Regions from separate parts of the Homo sapiens genome. Here region 1 is linked to region 2. The links come from fine-mapping of genetic effects on gene expression. Tissue or cell type: whole blood. Region 2 holds a variant in brackets; the other region holds the start of a gene. All regions are shown on one strand. Distances are from middle to middle.

The links. PIP is the estimated chance that this variant, and not a neighbour inherited with it, causes the effect. A credible set is the group of variants that fine-mapping cannot tell apart.
Region 1: it holds the start of CLEC6A, and the variant in region 2 is the best candidate, but not a certain one, in a credible set for the expression of CLEC6A in whole blood (INTERVAL, PIP 0.86).

The regions. Positions count from the first base shown.
Region 1 is chr12:8,454,759-8,457,521 of GRCh38, reverse strand. CLEC6A (C-type lectin domain containing 6A) reads right to left here and starts at 1,560. Exons shown (of 6, transcript NM_001007033.2): 1 at 1,380-1,560. The coding sequence starts at 1,410.
Region 2 is chr12:8,478,705-8,481,467 of GRCh38, reverse strand. No RefSeq gene overlaps it. Among named protein-coding and RNA genes, the nearest start is that of CLEC6A, 24 kb to the right of the region's middle. The variant A/C (reference allele first, on the strand shown) is at 1,538.

The DNA.
Region 1 (2,763 bases), 24 kb after region 2:
ACTATTCACAGTAGCCAAGATATGAAAGCAACCTAAGTGTCCATCAACAGATGAATGGATAAAGAAAATGTAGTATAATATATACAATGGCATATTATTCCACCATAAAAAAGAATAAAATCCTGCCATTTGCAACAGCACAGATGGAACCAGAGGACATCGTGTTAAGTGAAATGAGCCAGGCACAGAAAGACAAACATTGCATATTCTGACTCATATGTGGGAGTTAAAAAAATTGATCTCATGGAGGTAGTGAATAGAATGGTGGTTACCAGAGGCCAGGAAGGTTAACTGGGAAGAGAAGATAGAGAAGGGTTGTTTCGTACCTACAAAAATACAATTAGCTAGAAGAAATAAAATCTAGTGTCCCTTAGCACAGCAGGATAACTGTAGTTAACTTTTTTTTTTTTTTGACATGGAGTCTCACTCTGTCACCCAGGCTGAAGCACAATGAGGCAATCTTGGCACCCTGCAACCTCCACCTCCTGGGTTCAAGTGATTCTCCTGCCTCAGCCTCCTGAGTGGCTAGGATTACAGGTGCATGCCACCATGCCCAGCTAAGTTTTGTCTTTTTATTAGAGACGGGATTTCACCATGTTGGCCAGGCTGGTCTCTAACTCCTGACCTCAAGTGATCCACCCACCTCAGCCTCCCAAAGTGCTGAGATTACAGGTGTGAGCCACTGAGCCTAACCCAACAATAATTTATTGCATATGTCAAAATAGCTAGAAGAGTAGATTTGGAATGTTCCAAACACAAAGACATGATAAATATTTGAGGTGATGGATAATGTAATTTTCCAGACTTTACCATTACGCATCATATTCTTGTGTCAAAATATGACATGGAGCCCATAAACATGCACAACTATTTTGTATCCATAAAAAATTTTAATAAAAATTTTTTTAAAACATTATTGATGGACATGCAAAGGGTTGAAGCTAAAGTCAAATTTTCATGCATTAAAAATGGGAAGCTTTTCTCTTACAAAAAAATTAGAAAAGCAAGTACAAAAAAACTTAGGGTAATTGGAAAGAGTACTGCTTCCTGGATTTCAAAATTAGTCAAAAGACTTTGAAGAGCAGACATCCAATAATCAGTTATTTCCCTGTTTACCTTCTATCATGTAAATCTTTTCTGTCTCCCTAAACTATCAATAAAATCTGGTACAAACCTCCCAAAAAATATTTGCTTTCTTATTCTTTCAAGTGCTTATGGCTCTGGCTCTGAAGAATTACTCTTTCTTTCAAATTCCTTTGAGTCTACTATATTGGTCCAATCACTAGCTCTTCAATCTGTTCTTTGGCTACTTCTTCTCTCCAGGTGATCTCATTTCACCATACACTTCCACTTTCCTCTGAAACTGAGGAAATACTCACCTGTACTTTGAGGTTGCTGCTCTTGCATCATTATGCAGGCTCCCTGTGTTGAGAAGGTCCAGGAACCTTTTGTACCTCTCTCCCTAAAGATGTTGCCCAGAGACTCAGCTTCATTTAAAGAAGCTAGAGCTCAGGGACAAACTGCTACACACTCTTATAGGACTAAGAGACTTCCAACATTAAGTGTACCTCAAAAGAAGAAGTCACAATTACAACTAAAGTTTCCAGTGATTTCGATACGTGGGGTTAAAAAAAACAAAAGAGGAATTGAGAAACATTGAAAACCATTCATGAGAACTTTGACAAGAATACTTAGATCATTTCTTCAGTTTCTAACATAAAATTTCTCTGTCTGATTCCTATTCATTCTGGCATGCAAAATAGAAAATTTTTTATCTCCTAAAAGACATCTATTTAGAGAACTTGGTTAAATTAAGTGCTCCCTAACTAACCTTTACATTGGCTGCTTATTTTATGCAAGCCTTAATCCATGTGTTGAACAGTGTCCTAGGTAGTAAGCAAAAGTTTGATTGGATGGATATGGTTTAGATATGAAGGGTAACATAGTAAATAACAAAACCCATGAACATTGTTAAGGAATGTGACTGCAAAATGAAACATTCTGAAATCAGTCTGCAAAGGTGATGAAACATTCTTACTGCATCCAGACTAATATTGGGCAGATGTCAGTGATATTTTGTAATCTCCCTGATTAGGCAAAAGGGAGCCTGAAGTGATATAAAATCAGAAACAGGCTTCATGAATTTTATATTGTAGCACAGAAAATATATGATGTTTTCTTGTCCTCATAGATTCTTAGTAGAGACACTGTCCTGAAAACAAAAGGCAGAGAAACAAGAGAAAAAGCAGCAGTTTATCAATGTGTGTTATACCCATCACTCAGGAGAGAACTCAGTTCAAATGTATTTATCTCTTTCATGGCAGTGGCTTACAGGCCTTGCTTAAATAGTATGTTAACAAACAGCCATAAATCTATGGAGTGCTGAGAACGAAAAAAAAAAAAAACTGTTATTTGAGGAATGTGAGTGCCTTGAAACTATCAAGTCCAGAGTGGACTCATGAGAGAGATATGACAGGAGTCATGCCTCACTGCCACCTTGCACGAAATTTACCTCTTGAAGCCATTTGCTATGTAGGTTCTAGACTAACTGAACCCTAAAATTTAACAGTATACAGCTAATTACTAATCAATGTGGTTTCTGTAAACCAATGATAATTTACTGATGAGTAACTTTTTAATTCACTCCCTCTCCTGATTCATTCTTTTTTTAATTTTTATTTTTCCATAAGTTATTGAGGTACAGGTGGTATTTGGTTACATGAGTAAGGTTTTTAGTGGTGATTTGTGAGATTTTTGTGCACC
Region 2 (2,763 bases):
TAATTGTCAGATTCACCAAGGTTGAAACGAAGGAAAAAATGTTAAGGGCAGCCAGAGAGAAAGGTTGGGTTACCCATAAAGGGAAGCCCATCAGACTAACAGTGGATCTCAGCAGAAACCCAATAAGCTAGAAGAGAGTGGGGGCCCATATTCAAAATTCTTACAGAAAACAATTTTCAACCCAGAATTTCAAATCCAGCCAAACTAAACTTCATAAGTGAAGGAGAAATAAAATCCTTTACAGACAAACAAATGCTGAGAGATTTTGTCACCACCAGGCCTGCCTTATTAGAGCACCTGAAGGAAGCACTAAACATGGAAAGGAACAACCAGTACCAGGCACCGCAAAAACATGACAAATTGTAAAGACCATCAAGGCTAGGAAGAAACTTCATCAACTAACGGGCAAAATAACCATCTAACATCATAATGACAGGATCAAATTCACACATTAACAATATTAACCTTAAATGTAAATGGGCTAAATTCCCCTGTTAAAACACACAGACTGGCAAATTGTATATAGAGTCAAGACCCATCAGTGTGCTCTATTCAGGAGACCCATCTCATGTGCAGAGACACATATTGGCTCAAAATAAGGGGATGGAGGAAGATCTACCAGACAAAAGGAAAGCAAAAAAAAAAAAAAAAAGCAGGGGTTGCAATCCTAGTCTCTGATGAAACAGACTTAAAACCAACAAAGATTAAAAGAGACAAAGAAGGCCATCGCATAGTGGCAAAGGGATCAGTTCAACAAGAAGAGCTAAGTATCCTAAATATATATGCACCCAATACAGGAGCACCCAGATTCATAAAGCAAGTCCTTAGAGACCTACAAAGAGACTTAGACTCCCACATAATAATAATGGGAGACTTTAACACCCAACTGTCAACATTAGACAGATCAACGAGACAGAAAGTTAACAAGGATATCCAGGAATTGAACTCAGCTCTGCGCCAAGCAGACCTAATAGACATCTACAGAACTCTCCACCCCAAATCAACAGAATATACATTTTTTTCAGCACCACACCACACCTATTCCAAAATTGACCACATAGTTGGAAGTAAAGCTCTCCTCAGCAAATGTAAAATAACAGAAATTATAACAAACTGTCTCTCAGACCACAGTGCAATCAAACTAGAACTCAGGGTTAAGAAACTCACTCAAAACCGCTCAACTACATGGAAACTGAACAACCTGCTCCTGAATGAATACTGGGTACAAAATGAAATGAAGGCAGAAATAAAGATGTTCTTTGAAACCAATGAGAACAAAGACACAACATACCGGAATCTCTGGGACACATTCAAAGCAGTGATAAGTGTGATGAGCAGAAATAGGCTTCATTAGAGTAGAGTGACTATTAAAAATTATAACTTTCTAGGAGCTATAAATCAAAGCTTTAAAAAGATGTTTGGATATATTTGAGTATTCAGATCATGAAAATAGAAATTGCCCTGCCTACTGTAAGAAGAGACTGATGGGAAATTATACACCTGGTCAACTTAACCTTTAAACAGACAATGCTGTAAA[A/C]GCTAATGGTTTCTCTGATATTTATTTTAAGTTTTAGTACTGATCTCCTTTTCCAGTGCTGCACACTCCTGTGTTTGGAACTTTAACAGATTTGCAACAAAATCCTATATCCAGCTTCCTATAATTTAATTAAAGAAAAACACATCCAGATAAAGGCTTTGCTATGTTTTATTATTATTATACTTTAAGTTCTGGGGTATATGTGTAGAACATGGAGATTTGTTACATAGGTATTCATGTGTGAAATCTTTGTTATTAACAGAGCAGATAGCATCAGAAATCATGTGACTATTATGATTCTCAGAATATGTCTTAACTTTTAGGGCAAAGTTAACACTGAAAGCTCTAGCTTAAGTGTTGGCACCTTTGTGGGAAAAAAATCACTTTTGAAACTCAGACTTCAATAATTTAAAATTATTGAAGACAATAATTTAAAATTACGTGAAATGTTTTAAATTTGTGAACTCCTAATTACTGTCTTAATGATTCATTTTCTTGAGAGCGATAATTGTATAAAAAGCTATTGCAGCTTTATTTTCAATATGACATGCCTGTAAACCATGGAGTTTTCCCTGTTTGTAAATAGACATTGTAGATAATTGAATGTTTGATTTTAGAAAGGTCATTAGTTTCTTGTTACACATTTTGTTAGTCTGGTTTTTGTTGCTTATTGGGTTCTTGAAAATAGTTGATGCTGTGTTATGTATAACTTTTCTAATAAAAGTTGTGTTATAAGCTGTAAAAAAAATATTTTGGAGCAGAGGAAATGGAAACCACCTAGTAAGATGATAGATTTAGAACCATATATATGTCGAATTGTCACAAATGTAAATGGATTAAATTTTTAACCTAAAAGGTGATTGCCATATTGGATTTTTTAAAATTTAACTATATGCTACTTATTAAGAGCACATGTGGAATAAAAATGGTCAAAAATAGAAGATGGAAAAAAAAATTTTACAGCACTAACATAATGAAAGTTACTGTATCTATTTTAATATCAGGAGAAAAATTAAAGCCAAAGGCATTACTAAATTTAAAGAAAGTGACTCCACAATGATAAAAAAATTAATTTGCCATGTACAAGTAATAATTATAACATTGTATATACCTCATCATGGCTTAAATATACAGGTATCTCTTTCTATAAGAAGCTTTAATATCCAAATATTTGCTAAATTAATTTAAAAAATTGTTGTGCCAAATTTCTATTCAAGGGGGAAAAA